2 separate regions of the Homo sapiens genome follow, and region 2 is linked to region 1. Evidence: fine-mapped expression QTL. Tissue or cell type: whole blood. Region 1 holds a variant in brackets; the other region holds the start of a gene. All regions are shown on one strand. Distances are from middle to middle.

The links. PIP is the estimated chance that this variant, and not a neighbour inherited with it, causes the effect.
Region 2: HDAC7 starts here. The variant in region 1 is fine-mapped to the expression of HDAC7 in whole blood (INTERVAL, PIP 0.94).

The regions. Positions count from the first base shown.
Region 1 is chr12:47,780,322-47,788,422 of GRCh38, reverse strand. It overlaps SLC48A1 (solute carrier family 48 member 1), which reads right to left. Exons shown (of 3, transcript NM_017842.3): 3 at 5,672-8,101. It overlaps HDAC7 (histone deacetylase 7), which reads left to right. Exons shown (of 26, transcript NM_015401.5): 20 at 259-378; 21 at 614-711; 22 at 1,720-1,838; 23 at 2,538-2,671; 24 at 2,952-3,036; 25 at 4,206-4,344; 26 at 4,537-5,701. The coding sequence ends at 4,582. Among named protein-coding and RNA genes, the nearest start is that of SLC48A1, 11 kb to the right of the region's middle. The variant T/C (reference allele first, on the strand shown) is at 4,012.
Region 2 is chr12:47,815,301-47,823,401 of GRCh38, reverse strand. It overlaps HDAC7 (histone deacetylase 7), which reads left to right and starts at 3,499. Exons shown (of 26, transcript NM_015401.5): 1 at 3,499-3,635. The coding sequence starts at 3,617. RefSeq lists enhancers at 1,737-2,658, 3,997-4,570, 5,288-5,948, 6,195-6,304 and silencers at 3,209-3,548, 3,689-3,768, 3,779-4,088.

The sequences.
Region 1 (8,101 bases):
CTGGCCTGAGATTGGGACACCTCCTCTCCTTCAGGATCTCATATTACAGCCAGCCCTGTCCAGCACAGAGAGGCCGAGGTTCAGAGCCGGGCAGTGGATTACGTGGGGCCACTCGACCGTGTGGCTTTAGGAACCCCAGGTTCCTGATCCCAGTCTAGGGTCCTGACCTCAGAATGGCCACTGACCTTGAAACCCTTCTAACCTGTCCTGGCCCCCATCTCTCTGCCTTCCCTAATCGCTGCCCGTCTCCCTACACAGGACGTGCACCATGGCAACGGCACCCAGCAAACCTTCTACCAAGACCCCAGTGTGCTCTACATCTCCCTGCATCGCCATGACGACGGCAACTTCTTCCCGGGGAGTGGGGCTGTGGATGAGGTAACCGCATGTCAGGGCCACATCTTCCAGCCTCATTGACCTCCTCCTGACACTTACTCTGCCTCTGTCATGACGAGCTGTGTGATCCTGGGCAGACTGCTGAGCCTCTCTGATCCTAAACTTCCCCACCTGGAAATGGGGAGGCTGGATGAGCTGGGCTGGCAGCTCTAACAAACTGGTGTTCCCCTTCTGGGACTCTGCTGTCCTCATGTCTCTCTTGCCTCCTGTTTTCCAGGTAGGGGCTGGCAGCGGTGAGGGCTTCAATGTCAATGTGGCCTGGGCTGGAGGTCTGGACCCCCCCATGGGGGATCCTGAGTACCTGGCTGCTTTCAGGTACGTGCTCTGGGGGCCCAGAGGGGCAAGTCCACCCTCTCCTGTCCCTTCTCCCAAGAGCACCAGGGGGGAGGTGATCAGTTGGATTGTCAGCCTGTCCCCACCAGTTCCTAGACATTGTAGGTGAACGCCAGTGAGAATAGGACAAACAGAGAGAAGAATGCAAAAGTCAAAGGGTGCTTTGCAAAGGCATACATTACCGAGAGCCAATGTCAAACTGATTGCTGGCAGGTGGGTGGTGGAGTGAGCAGAGCTGGCACATTTAGTCAGAGAAGGCTGCCACTCTATTTGGGAAAAGAGAATTCTGGAAATGGATCTTCAAACACTTTTCTGGAGTTATCTCCATGACAGCTAATTCTACGAGAGCCCTGGGCTGGAGTTCCTGGAGTCTTCTCAGAGCCCAGGGCTATGAAGAACACCCAAGCAGGCCCCAGAGTTGGATCAGGGGTAGAGGAAGGCAGCTGGGGGGGGGCCTGGAAGAGGGAGAGGATGAGAGAATGTAGCCAGGTGGCGCAGAACCTCAGAGGACCTAGTTGTCCCCTACTCAGCTCTCAAGTAGTGAGTAGCTGGGTGTGGTCAACTCAGTCCAAAGGACTGAGCACTTGTAGTCCCTGAAGCTTTGTGACCAGAGTCCATCTCCGCAAGGCTGTGAGATTACCCTTTCCCTGTGGCTCCGGCCACTGCACCCCACAGATGCTTGCATGCACACACACACATGCACACACACATGGTCACACACACTCCTCTTTCATTCCCTCTGGTGCTCCATCCTTGGCTCCTTTCTGCCTCTTGCTAGTTAAGTCCCCTAGGGGGCTGAGTCCTTAGGCTGTGTGTGCCAGGGACATGGGTGGCCAGCCAAGGTCAAGGAGGTCAGAGAAATCTGCCAGTTGTGCTGGGGCACTGGGAGCCTTGGAGTCCTAAGAACAGGGTGCCCCACCGCAAAGTTGGCAGGACCGCCCCTGGCAACCCTGCACAGTACGATGATCGCCACTTCTTGTGACCTCACAGGATAGTCGTGATGCCCATCGCCCGAGAGTTCTCTCCAGACCTAGTCCTGGTGTCTGCTGGATTTGATGCTGCTGAGGGTCACCCGGCCCCACTGGGTGGCTACCATGTTTCTGCCAAATGTAAGGGAGCCTCAGCTGAGGGGGACGTTAGGGACAGAGAGCCAGGCGGTGCGGGGAGTTGGGAGGCACTCCCAAGTCAGAAAGGGAAGGTGGCAGTGGCCAGCCCAGGGCTTTCAGCCTGAGGACTGGAGTATGGCAGCTGGTCCTGAAATTCCCCGGGATCTCCTAGCCGAGCACAGCCCAAGCCCTTTCTCAGGACCAGGCCGGTTCACCACGGAGGGCTTGACCAGGTCATACCCATGGGGACTTAAGTCCAGTAGGCAGGAAGCTCAGCCGTGGGACTCCCCACCACAGCTGGGTTGATTCCAGGTGGGCTGGCAGCTCCTCCAGAGGAAGGGGAGAGAGAAGCAGCACTCTCAGAATAGAGGGTGGCCACAGGGCCCAGAGTACAGAAAGAAGAGAGGGTGTAGCTCAGTGAAAAAGACACAGGCTAGAGTCAATGACCCAAGTTCAGGTCCTACCTTGCTGCCACTTACTAGCTGTGGGGCCTTTCCCAAGGCCCTTAACCTCCCTGAGCCTTGAGTGAAGCATACTAGTAGGTTTTGTACGACATTCAATGTGAAAGCACTTTGGAAATAGTGATTGATACATGTGAGTCATTCTTTATTAGGGAGGAAGCAAGCAGGGAAGCCACAGGGGTAGAGAACAGGGTCACCTCTCCACTCCCGCCCCTCCCATTTCTCCCCTCCCAACCTCTAGGTTTTGGATACATGACGCAGCAACTGATGAACCTGGCAGGAGGCGCAGTGGTGCTGGCCTTGGAGGGTGGCCATGACCTCACAGCCATCTGTGACGCCTCTGAGGCCTGTGTGGCTGCTCTTCTGGGTAACAGGGTGAGCCGTCTCCCTCCCCCATCCATGCTTCTGTCAGGCAGGTAAGCCCGGCTCTCAGGACTACCCAAGGAGCAGGCAGATGGGATGGGACAGGGTGGGAGTGGCCAAGCCTGAAACAAGGTAGGCGAAGCGGAAGCCTCTGTTCCAAGTTAGGTCCAGGCAGCATCTCCTGGCCTAGGTAGAGTGTGCTTGTGGCTAGAAGGCTGGGGCCCCTGGGGTGGGAGTGAGCTGGGCCTGTGGGTCCCTGAGAGACTGGTGGCTGATGTACTGTTTTCTATAGGTGGATCCCCTTTCAGAAGAAGGCTGGAAACAGAAACCCAACCTCAATGCCATCCGCTCTCTGGAGGCCGTGATCCGGGTGCACAGTAAGTGTGGAGATGGGACACTCGCTGAGCTCAGACTGAAGGATCTTGGTGGTACCCTGCCCCACCGTGGCCAGATCCTAGGGCTTCCGGTGCCAGCCAGGTGACCTGCTGTTGGTCTGGAGTAAGATTCCTGTGAGTGACCCAGGCAGCAATGGTGAGCACCCCCCAGTGAGGGGTTATCCTCTGAGCCCCCCCGATGGAGCCAGCAGGGCCTACCAGACAGTGGCCCCTCAAGGTAGGGACTGGCCTCCATCTCTAGCGACAGCCCTAGACCAGGGCCAGGTCAAGAGCAACACTCAGGCCTTGTTTGCCAAAAGGCCTGGTTCCCATCCCTCCCCTCAGTCCTGGCCACAGGCGTCTCAGGAGCTCTGCTGGCTTGGGGGCTGCGTCTTGGGATAACCCCCACATTTGTAAAGTACTTTAAATTTTCAACTTCAACTCAACATCTATTGAGCATCTTATGTCAAGACCCATAATCTATACTAGGGATAAAAATGAGTAAAATAGATTCCCATATCAAGGGCTGGGTAGGGGAGCCGTGATGTCTTTACATAATGGTAAAGACATGGCTGATTCCTCTTACGGTGGGTGCCCTCACACTGAGCCAGATTCCAGGACATGGTTCCTCACAGCAGCAGGCAGGAGGAGCATTCTCCTGGCCTGGGCACCCATGCAGAGCGGCCGTGGTGATGGTCAGTTCTCCCATGTTGTGTTCGTCCCACCTCCCAGGCCCTCCTTTCCTGAGTGCTGGGCTGAGCACTGGTGGGGGCTGTGTTTAAGTGGGAGGCCCGAGCTTGGGGCTCTGGGAGGTCACTGTGACACAGACCCTGTCTGCAGGCAAGCAGGCTCTCCTGATGCTCTCAGGAGCCCCGCACCTGTGGGGAATGAGTCAAAGGTGGCCTTGCAGCCACAGGGGATGAGAGAAAGGCTGGGCACCTGCTAGGACTCCCTCACAGCCATGTTGAACCCACTCTG[T/C]GTACCCTGTCAGGCTGTGCGGGAGTGGGAGCGAAGTGAGGAGAGGGGCAGGTGGGAGAGCCGACCCTAAGTGGAGGACAGGCCCGCTCCTCCGGGGCCCTGGGCCTGAGACACCAACCTCAATATCCGGTCTAGGACGCAGTGTGGAGGGGCTTGCTTTCTCCAACCCTTTCTGACCTGGCATCTTACCCCAGGTAAATACTGGGGCTGCATGCAGCGCCTGGCCTCCTGTCCAGACTCCTGGGTGCCTAGAGTGCCAGGGGCTGACAAAGAAGAAGTGGAGGCAGTGACCGCACTGGCGTCCCTCTCTGTGGGCATCCTGGCTGAAGATAGGTAATGCCAGACCCCTGGCCCTGGGCCCACAGCCTCTCCACCGCTTCATTCCTCCCTGCTTGAAGACCCCGGGTCCGCTATGCAGCCACCCCAACCCTCCCAGGCTTCCTGACCAGGGTTGAGAGGAAGCTTAGCTAAGGCCCTTGCTGCAGCCCTGGTGCTCCAGCATCCCACCCTTGTCCCTCCCCACAGGCCCTCGGAGCAGCTGGTGGAGGAGGAAGAACCTATGAATCTCTAAGGCTCTGGAACCATCTGCCCGCCCACCATGCCCTTGGGACCTGGTTCTCTTCTAACCCCTGGCAATAGCCCCCATTCCTGGGTCTTTAGAGATCCTGTGGGCAAGTAGTTGGAACCAGAGAACAGCCTGCCTGCTTTGACAGTTATCCCAGGGAGCGTGAGAAAATCCCTGGGTCTAGAATGGGAACTGGAGAGGACCCTGAGAGGAGACGGGCTGGGCGGCGACCCCCACAGGGCTCTCGAGAACAGATTCTCCCCTCCAGTATGGGCCCTGGCTGTGGCCCCCATTCCTCAGGACTGCACAGAGGAGGACTGGCTCCGGCTCCGTCGGGCTCACCCTTAACCACTATTCCTGGCTCTGCAAACCCCAGACTTTGCACACAGCCTCAGGCTCCACACAGAAATGTGAACTTGGCCTCAGACAGGCTGGCCCTTCCTAGGCTCTAGGGGCTAGGGGGGAGTGGGGAGCCAAGAGGTCCCATATTCCTGAGTGCAGGGGTAGTCCCTCTCACCTGCTTCCTCAGACGACTCTGGAAGCTTCCCTCTACCACTGGGCACTGAGACGAAGCTCCCTGACAGCCGAGACTGGCAGCCCTCCATCTGGTCCGTACCCTCGCCAGAGGCCCCCCTACATCAACCTCCTGGCGATGCCCTGGTGGAGCAGATGGGTGCTCTGGGAGTCCTGTGCTTCCTGATCCAATGGTGCCAAACCCTTCATCTCCCCAAGAAGCGCAGCATACCCCTGGGACCCCTCGGCCACTGCCCACTCGGGGAGCCTTCTCTGTTTCTGGGGCCTCCCCCACCATAGCTCTGATTCCCACCCCACATAGGAGTAGCCTGACTGAGGGGGAAGGGGTGGGAGAGAAGATACAGACATGGAGGAGGGGAGGCTGCTCTGGCAAAGTCTTCAAGGCTTTTGGGGGTCCAGGCCTGGGGTCAAGAAGGAAAATGTGTGTGAGCATGTGTGTGAGTGAGGCGTGTGTGTGAGCGTGTGTGTGAGTGAGGCGTGTGTGTGTGTCTTTCCTAGGACCCACCATACCCTGTGTATGTATGCATGTTTTTGTAAAAAGGAAGAAAATGGAAAAAAATCTGAACAATAAATGTTTTATTTGCTTTAAAAGTGCCTCTGAAAGGGCCCCCCAGAAGTGAGCAGTGCGCCGTCAAGCGGGTGTGCAGGGCACACAGCTGCACGGCACAGTGTGGGTCTGAGTCACTGCCGGAGGAGGGACCAGGGTGGTCTGGGCCGCAGCCCCTTTAACAATCTGCCCTTCCTGCCCTGCAGGAAGAACCCATTCTGAACACACCCTGGCTGTCCCTGGCTGCCCCACTTTGGGGTGACAAAGAGGAGGCAGCCCTGGGCTGAGTCCACAGAGACCAGCCCTGATATGGCAGGAGTGGGGGTGGGGTGGGGGAGTGGGAATACAGGAGCTCAGCCCCAGCTCACCACGGCATCCCCGAAGAGTTGTGACTCAGACACACCTGGGTTTAAGTCCCAGCTGGGAGCTCAGGTAAGTCAAATCGTCTTCTGGGGCCTCTGTTTATCAGTAGAAGGCTCCAGAAGTATACACTGTTGATGGCTCCTTCCCGCTCTGATGCACCATGCCTGATTAAGCATACACTGAGCCTAGAAGAGAGAAGGGGTGAGGCACAGGCCTGGACAAGCTCACCCAGCCTAAGCAGAGAGGAAGGCGCCAGGCTGGCAGCACCTGCCTTTGTGGTTCTGAGTCTGTCCGGTTTTTCCAGCAGGAAGAGGAGCACCTCATTACCTTAGACCTGGCCCAAGCTCCTGGCAGCCTGGCAGAGTGTGAGGGAAGAGGCGCTAATCCCTTTCCCATCTGGCCTGGCCTCTCGGGTGTGGACACCAAATCCCGCAGGGGTTGCTGTAGCTATGCCCGTGGGCATCCTTGCCCTGGCTGGGGTGTGCTAGAGAGAGGAAAGCTGGAGGAGGAGAGCTGAGCTGGTGGTTACCCCATGCCAGGAGGGCCAAGGCAAGAGGGCCTGCAGCCCCAGAGATACTGACTCTGTCCCCTGCCCTCCAGGGCACAACTGAACTAGCGGAATGGCTTAATCAGATAGCTCGAGAACTGCCACTACCACTCCCTCCCTGCCCACTCCTCCCAAAGTCCACCTGTTCCCGCAAGAGTCCCACCTCACAAGCAACCACCAGAGGCTGATACAAATGGCCGCTGTATTTTTGCTAAAGTGACAGTGACACAGATAAGGCAAAGAGCTGAGGGGCAGGACACATCAGATGGGAAGGGGGAGACCGTGCAAAATGGCAGTCTAACAGAAAATCATCCTTGTACCAACAGCCCCTTCCCTCCCAAGTTAGGTGAGCCCTTGGGCCAGTGTATGGGCAGAAAAGCAGATTTGTGTCCTTCAGAAGGGAAATGTAAAAAGGTGAAAGCTCTAGTTGAAGGGCAGTGAGAGGGGCTGGAGTGGGAGAGAAGGTCTCTCCTGGCCGGTGGTCTGGGTGCAGCAAGGGCACTCTGAGAAGGCAGAATGGAAACGCAGGGCTGGAGGGGCATGGGTACAGGTTTGGGGGCTCTTTCCAGCCTCTACTATGTTGCCCCCTTCCCCAAAGCCCTTACAGGGGCAGAAGCACATTCCCCGTGACCCTGAGTCTGGCCTCATTTGGGAAGTCTTCTGGGGTGTATGGATGCCTGTGTGTGTGAGTGAGATGGGTGGGGGGCCACGGCTATCTGGCTCTAGCACACTCATGGGAGACCAGCTCTGGGAACAACAGGATGGGGTGCTGGGATGGGGGTTTAAGAGGTCTCTGCTAGATATTTCTGAACTGACCTCCCCAGGTGCCCAACCTGGCCTTGGGAAGAGAGTGCCTAGGGCAGCGGGGATGGAAACCCTTGCCTGCAGCATAGGTCCAGGCCTCATGGCCCTACACCTTGACCTCTTGACTTTGTTGCCCTGGCCTTAAGTACAAAGATTCCTCACTGCGTGCTAAGAAAACAGATCCAGGCCGGGCACGGTGGCTCACACCTATAATCCCAGCACTTTGGAAGGCTGAGGCGGGTGAATCACCTGAGATCAGGAGTTCGAGACCAGCCTGGCCAACATGGCAAAACCCTGTCTCTACTAAAAACACAAAAATTTGCCGGGCATGGTGGCAGATGCCTGTAATCCCAGCTACTTGAGAGGCCAAGGCAGGAGAATTGCTTGAACCTGGGAGGCGGAGGTTGCAGTGAGCTGAGATCGCACTACTGCACTCCAGCCTGGGTGACAGAGTAAGACTCCATCTCAAAAAAAAAAAAAAAAGAAAAAAAAAAGAAAGAAAAGAAAACAGATTCATTTGAAAAGGTCTAAAGCTGCCCTCTGGCCAGGCTGATGAGGAGCAACATGGCAGGATCCCCTCTCTACCACACTCAGGTTTCCTCGAAAGGGGACGGGCAGGACAGCTTCCTGGGAGACCACACTCGTCCTGCTGTGTATTTTCTGCCACAGTTCTGGGGTCACCAGGGGGTGGGAGTAGCCTCTCCCAACATCTCAGAGGCTGAGTCCAGGT
Region 2 (8,101 bases), 35 kb before region 1:
GAAACTGAAATGCAAGATCCAAACTAACCCAATACAATGAGTGTCCACTGAGATCTCACTGAACTGAGGCCTTGGGGAAGGAGCACTTTCTGGTTGGCTTTGTGCGAAGTGTGTGAGGATAAGTGCAGGCTGGCGGAGGAATTGTGGCTATGGCCCCCACATCTAGAAGGTTGGGAACGGAGGGTATCAGAAAGTTTGGATAATTTTCTGGGGCTTTAAATCCTGGCACAAAGTAGGCACCCAATAATATTTGTTGAATGAATGAATGGCCCTGTCACTTACTAGTTGTGCAACTTTGATCAGGTTTCTTAACCATAAAGGCCATGCTTTACTCATGAGCATAACAAGGATTATTGTTAAGAATAAATGATCTAATGTTTGTCCAGGGGATAGCAAGGACTGCTACGCAGTAAATGGTAAACAGTAGCTAACTAAGGAAAGAAGGAGAGGAAAAGGAGAAGAGAAGGTCAAGTAGGCCCAGAGTCCCAAAGGGAAGCAGATTGGGGTGCCCTCAGGCTTTGTGCTGGCCGGAGACTCTAGGGAAGGCTCAGGAAGCCAAGGCACGTCTTTTGGGGCCAGTCTCTTCTGCTAGGTGTTCAGCTGAGAAAGCTATGAGAGGCCTGGACTCAAGAGCTTTTTAAAAAAAGGCTCCCCACGGTAACCAGGCTAGAAGAGAGAGAGGTAGCTTGCATTTCTCTGTCTCATGTCTCTAAGGTTCTTGGAGGCTTTCTAATTTATCCTGGTAGGGGACATGTGACTTAGAAACTGGCTTAGGACTCTGCCATGAGGCGGGGTCTGGTAAGTAAATCTGGCAGGGGAAGGAGAGACACAGTCCAGCTTTCCCAGATGCAGGTTGCACATGCTGTCTTTTTCTCTGACTATATGTTGGAGGCAGTGAGTCCTGGTGTGTAGAAAGCCACATGTTGGGCACTGTGTGGACAGACAGGCAGGGAGATAGCCTCTTAATTCAGATCACTCAAAACTCAGTGATGAGTTTAAAAAGAGAAAGAAGACTCACAAATAAATGTATGCACAATGCACATGGTAGAAATGAGCATAAAAGGGCCTGGCTTTACTACAGAAATAGCTACAGAAAAGCTACGGATATGTGTGTGTTGGGGGTTGGGATCAATTGTGGAGCTAGACAAGGGAGATAGCAGGCATGTCGCTGGGGGTCTGCAGTAACCAAGCAGTTTTTCTGGAGTCTGTGGACACCAAAGAGGCATTTGGAAGGAGGATGATCTGGCTTGGAATTGAGGGCTGGGGATGACATACCTAAGGTGGAACAGCATGTGTCTTGGAGAGTCAGCATGGGTAGTTATGGGGTGAAAGAATGTACTGTAGGTGTCCAGCTGGAGAAGGGTTCTTGAAAGTCATGAACATCTGTCCCAATTCAACAAATAACTCACATCAAGTTTGAATTCTGTGCAAGACACTACAAGAAATGCACCCATGACCAAGGCAGTAGCTGGACTCAGGGATATCCACTCTTGAATGCTCTTGGAAGGAAGAGAGTTGAGACAAGTAGACTAGGTGGGCGAAGGTCAATGTATAAAGACCACACAGTTCAGGGAAGAATTCCTCTTGGCTATGGGAATCCGGGAAAGCCTCCCGGAGAAAGTGGTATGCCACTTTCTTTTTCTTCCAGTCCTTCCTTCCTTCCTTCCTTCCTTCCCTCCCTCCCTCCCTCCCACTAGATAGGGAGTGGGTCTTGAGGATTGGAAAGATTTCAACAGAAGGAGAAAGGGGCTGGGAGGACATTTCTTTTGGAGGCAGCATGATGAGCGAAGGCAAGGGAGTGTGGAAGCGTGAGGACAGGATGGGAAGCAGCTAGCAGCCCAGTCTGGCAGAAATAATGATAGTAATAATAGTGACTAACACTACTGAGCCCTAAGTACCAGGAGGCACTGGGCAGGGATGTGTATGGAGTGTGGTGCCAGGTTGTAGGAGGACTTGAATGCCAGGAAAGGCTTTTGGGAGGGTAAGTTAACAAGCGCAGAGGGGTTGGATCTGCCTGCCGAAGGAGAACTGGGACAAGGAAAGGGGCTGAAGTAAGAAGTCCCACGCTGAATATGCCGGTAGCAACAGATAGTGAGTCCCGAGCTGTGCCTGAGGGAAGGGAATAGAATCTATGGTTTGAAGTTCACCGCCAGCATGGCCAAGCCCTCCTAGGCCACTGTGGGCTCTTGCTTCCAATCAGACATGACTCCACCTCTGGGGCTGCCTCAATTTTTCCTTCTCTGGATTCTTGGGGTTTCTTAGGATTGCGGGAGATAGAATGGGGTCAGGGGAAGCTGCTCCTTGGTTTACAATGGTGGCGCCTCACGCTGCAGAGAGCCCAGTGTTCCTGCGTGGTGGACCTCTCCCCTTCCTAGGAGCAGCTCCAGATTGCTGGAGGCAGACACGGCTGACCGGCTAGCCCAGGAAGCACAATGGCGAGGTCCTTAGCCCCTGACCCCTGAATCTGACCTTCTCTCCAGCTAAAAGCGGAGGGAGAGGCAGGGAGGGCCACTGCCTAAAGCCGGCCCTGAGCTGAGTTTATTAGCTGAGGGAGGGCTGGAGGCGGCTGCATTCCGACTCACAGACTGGAACATTTCTGTGATCCGCTGTAATGCACTGGGGGACACTGGGCACATTGCTGAAGTTTGACTCATAGGGACCGGGAGGGGGAAAGAGGGGGGTTGTGGAGGGAGAGGAATGGGAGGAAGAGAGGAAGAGGAGAGGAGGGAAGGAAGTCCCTTGAGAAATTTCTTTAAAAAAAGAAAACTTTCAAAATCTGCACCACCCCCACACCCTTTTTCTTTTAATAGGAACAGGCTGGACCCTTCCGTTCCCCTCAGCAGGCATGGTGTGTGTGTGGGGGTGCCAGTGGGGGAGGGCTGGGCAGTGATTCAAATCAGATCCTGGAACTTTCCTGAGGCAAGTCGTGCTTATGTGTGTGTGTGTGTGGTGGGGGGTGTCCGTCTGGGATTCCTTGTATGGGACATGGGACACCACGCGTGTCCCACTGTGCCCGCGTGTGGCTGCGTGCTTGTGGGCTGTACGGGTATGTAGTGTGTGCACGGGGGTCCACCCCGAAGCCCCAGTGTGTGCTGTGTAAATGATTCTGCCCCTTGTAAACATGGATGCGTGCTCGTGTACGTTGTGTATGCGAGGGTGCGTGCGCCCAGGTAGCTGGGTTTCCGGGAATTGTGCACGGCTCGGAGCGCCTCGCGGCGGCTGGGGCTCGGAGCCGCGGCCGGCGTTCCGGGTTCGGCGCTGCCTCCCCGGCAGTGCGCCGCGCCCCGCCGCGATCTGGCCGCGCGCGGTGTCTGCGGCCCGCCTGTGCGCCGCGCGGTGCAGTGTCTGCCGGGGTGGTGTGTCCCAGGGCCGCGAGCGCCTGCCCCCTCCCTCCCCTCCCCCTTGGCCCGCTCTCAGACTCAGATAAAGCATTTCCTTCCATTGTCATCCTACCCGGCCGGCCGGGCTGCCAGGGCCCTCCCCCTCCCGGCCCCCTCCCTTCCTCTCGCCGTCTCACAGTCGCTCTGCAGCCTCCGGCGACTGGGGGGATGTGAGGCCGGCGCCCCAGCCCCCCGCCCCGCCATGAGCCCCCCGCTCTGAGGGCCCCGGCCCCTGGATGCACAGCCCCGGCGCTGGTGAGTACTGGGCGGCCGCCCCCCGCCCCGCCCTGCGCGCGGCACCCAGCGTCGCCCGCCCAGGCTCGGCCTCCGGCCCTGGCCCCGGCTCCGGCTCCGGCTCCGGCTCGGGCTCCCGCCAGCCCCGCGGGCCCAGCCCGGCTTGCGCCCCCCGACCGCGCCTGTCCCGCCCGGCTCCGCGGGGCTCTGGCAGGCTCCGGGTCGGAGCTGGTTCCGGGGGCCGGAGGGCTCGGGCCTCCCGCGGGGCGCCCACATCCGCCCGCCCCGGGGCAGCTACAGGCCCAAGGGAGGGAGTTGGAGGCCCCGGCCGCCGGTGTGCGGGCCCCACGTCCCATCACCCCTGTTCCCGGGGAGGACGAGCCGAGGGACCGGGGAGGGAGGGACGGCCGCGGTGGCCCGGCGAGGGGGCGGTGCTCCGGGGCGGAAGGTTTGGAAGCGCGAGGGCAAAGGGCAGGACCCACTGAGTTGGGGCTGGGCTTTGTGGGGCTGGACATCAGCGCCCCCATCCCGTGGAGCCGGGCAGGGCCCTACTCAGATCCTTCGGCGGGGAAAGAGGTCCCTTGGAGGGGTCTCTGGCTGGGAGGTTTCTCTGAGCATTGCCCCCCATCCTTGCTCACCCATCAGGGTGAAGAGACACCTGTGCCCTGGTGAGCTGTGGAGGTCAATGCCGGCAGCGGCGCGGGAAGCGGGGCGCCGCAGGCTGTGTGAGGGGTGGGGGACAGGATGTGCACCCCCCAGGCCTGGGGTCTGTTGGTGTTGGGGAGTGTGAGAGCAGGCGGCAAATTTGGCGGATGGGCTGGGTTCCCACGACCAGAGTTTCTAGGCCTGTGGGCCAGGAGAGAGCCCTCTGGGGCCCGCAGGCCACCCAGTGCCCCACCCCCATTGCTTCCCGCTGTGGCTGCCCGTTTGGGTCTGACCTCCCCAGCCACGGCTGCTCCTCACTCCTTCTCCCCGCTGGCTGTCTTGCGCACCCAAAGGCCTCCCCCTGCATCTGGACACTGGCTGTCTCGCTGCCAACGCTCCCTGCCCACTCCCCTAGGCAACATCTGCCTGAGGCCCAGCTCTGCCTGCCGCTTTCTAGGGTGAGAATGGGGCATCGGCCCTCAGCGGCCCTGCTGGGAGCTCAAGATCAACTTCTCAGCCTGTTCCCTGGACTTGCATCTGGACCTGTGGGACCTTCCTCAGGACCCCTATTCAGCTATAGGGCTGGCAGGAGACTGTGACTCAGGTCCCTGCCCTCCAATGAGACGCTTTGGCGGCCCTTTCCCCCTCCCAGGACTCCATAGGCTGCTAGGCTGCCGCTACCCATGGGTTATTAAGTCATTTTCTTCTTCTCTGCAGTCATTTCTGAGGGAAACTAAGGCACAGAGTAGTCCCAGTGAGTGGTACCCAGCCCAGTGAACCTAGACTGGAACCAGGTCTTGGACCTATTGGGACTGGTCCTCTGCCTTTAGTCCCCTGATGTCCCTCCTTGCCCAGCAGGGCCAGGCTCAGAGGCAAGCTCAGAGCTGCCTCCTGATGTTGCACCTGGAATGGTCCTGGTGCAGTGTTCTCCAGAGGCCTCTGTGTCCCTTATTCGGCGGGTGTCTCTGTGGCCACCGGGTCTTACAGTGGGTTTTGGGGCAGGGAAGTTTGCATGTCTAAGCTGTTCACTCCACTTTGACACTGAAGTTCAGTTTCCCCATCAGTAAAATGGGGAGAAAATTCCAAGCACACTTCTCAGAGCAGAGCAGAAGAGGTTGACTATGGAGAGGAGAATGAAGGTACTGTGCTATTATCCACCCCCTCCAGTTTGCTTAGGGATAATGGACCTCAGCTTTAGTCCTTGGTGGCCTCTTGGCATGGAAGCTGGAACTTTCTCAATTCTGATATAAAACCCTTGAGCAAGAGAGAAACTCATGTGTGATGGGGTAGGGAGTGGGGACCCTCTGGTAGCTGTGGGCAAGCATGCCCAAGGACTTGGAAGACAGAAGCCTGTGGAACCCCATCTCCTCTTTGCCTTCTTTCTCCTGGCCTTTCATTAAGGGCTGGTAATTTTGAAGTCGGCAGGGGCCTGAGAGAAGGTGAGCTAATGCAAGGCCCAGGGTCACACAGCCAGGGAATGGCAGGCGGAGGGGGCCAGAACCAGGCCTTCTCACTCTGCCAGTGCCCATTCTGCTGGCCCACCCTCCACAGCTTGGCTCTCCCTGGCCTGCCCTCAGTTAGACTTCGGACTGAGGCCTCCAGTGGGGTGTGGGGTATTGCTGGAAGCAGGGCCTGAATAAAGTCTGGGGCTAGCGGGAGGGCATCTGTCCTCCCGGAGGCTCCCAGGACTGTGCATTTGTGTGTGTTGGATTTGTTCACTAGATGGGGCACTTCCTTTGGGGCAGGAAGCTTTGATTTCCTGTGGTGATGGTGAGGAGGGGTTGGTAAGGATTAGGAGTGGGGGGCTCAGCTCTGGGCCATCCTCGATGTTGTTGTTTGGAACCACGGAGGGGCAGAGTTTCTGCTTAAGACTGCTTCTCCCAGCTCTGGGGAGGCAGGAAGGAGAGCCTTGGTGAGGAGGCCCAGGCCAAGGCTGGAGAAGGAGGCTGTGAGAGCAGTGAGCTGGGGGTGGGCAACACAGCAGGAAGCCCGGTCAGCAGGTGACCCTGCCGGGTATTGTGTTTCCTTGTAATATTTTCCCCCTGTTTCTGTGGTAACCTTCCCTGGAGGCCCCAGGCCTTAGGGCTACAGGAAGGTGCCCCCAGACAGCCCTTTCCTTAGAGGCCTGAGTATTAGGAGGAGTCCCCAGATCTAGCCACCTCCCTAACCCTTTTGGCTCCCTAGGATCAGGGGCCTGGGAATCTAGGCGAGTGGCCTGAGTGAGCATGGACTCGCGGGCTGGGGGAAGGCCCTTTGGCGTCTTCTGGGGGGAAGGGAGAGGGAAAGAGGGGAGCTGGACGCCCGGAAGGGCCCTGAGCAACTTGAGTCGCTGGCCTAGCCTCTTGTTTCCTCCCAACCCATCCCCACTGCCCTCCTCCAGTCTCCCTCCTCCTACAAGGGAGAGGTGGGTAGCATGCTGCCTGGGGCAAGGGGCAGGGGTGGGGGTGGCAGAGGTGGGAGGGATGTTTTCATCAGCAGAGCATAGCTCCTTTGGTCCTGGACCAGTTCCCAGAGGCAAAATAAATTCAGGACAGCGTCTGTTTAGTGTGGGTCTGCATGAGATGTGTGTGAGCACACACTGGGTGCGTGGTGGGTATCTGTGTGTGTACCCCTCCCCCCAGACCCTGTGTATGCTGATGTGGTGGTTCCGGGCAATTTGTGATCTATGTGGTGGTTCTGTGTTGGGTGTTTTGGGAATATGCACACATAAAAGACAGATGTGCATCATCTGTATGGTGCACACCTTTTCAGGTTATGGCCCTGTGTGGGGTAAACATGTCCATATGTATGGACATGTTTTTTGGGGGTATATATCTGGGCAGGAGTGGCTTTTTAATAGAAGTCCAGATGCTGGCTTGTAAAACACCATCTCATTTGGGATTCTCAAATGCGGGTTCCTGGACCATTTGCTTCAGAGTCACCTGGGGAATGTGTTAAAGATAAAGATCCTGGGCCGGGCGCGGTGACTTACGCCTGTAATCCCAGCACTTTGGGAGGCCGAGGCAGGTGGATCACCTGAGGTCAGGAGTTCAAGACCAGCCTGGCCAATGCGGCGAAACCCTGTCTCTACTAAAAATACAAAAAATTAGCCAGGTGTGGCGTGCGCGCCTGTAATCCCAGCTACTCGGGAGGCTGAGGCAGGAGAATTGCTTAAACCCGGGAGGCAGAGGTTGCGGTGAGCCAAGATCACGCCATTGCACTCCAGCCTGGGTGACAGCAAGACTCTGTAAAAAAAAAAAAAAAAAAAAATCCTGGCTGGACGCGGTGGCTTTGGGAGGCTGAAACAGGCAGATCACTTGAAGGCAGGAGTTCGAGACGAGCCTGGCTAACAGGGCAAAACCCCATCTCTACTAAAAATACAAATTTAGCCAGGCATGGTGGCGCAGGCCTGTAGTCCCAGCTATTTGGGAGGCTGAGGCAGAAGAATTGCTTGAGCCCAGGAGGTGGAGGTTGCAGTGAGCCGAGATTGCGCCACCTCACTCCAGCCTGGGCAATAGAGTGAGACTGTCTCAAAATTAAAAACATTCAGATCATCAGGCCCATTCCAGATTGACTAGTCAGAATCTGAGGGGTGGGGCCTGGGAATCCAGATTTTAACAGGTGCTTCAGGTGATCCTGGGGCAAGGCTGTGTTTGAGGACCACTGCCCTGGGTCAACCTCTTCATTTTTTCTTTTGAGGAAATAGACCCACAGAAGGTATGTAGTTTCTCTAAGGTGACAGGGCCATTAAGAGGAAGAACCAAGAGAAAACTCAAGGCTTCTAAGACCTGTCCAGGACTTTGTGCTCACCCATGTACCCCCTGTGTGTGTGTGTGCATGTGTGCTCATAACTACACTTTGTG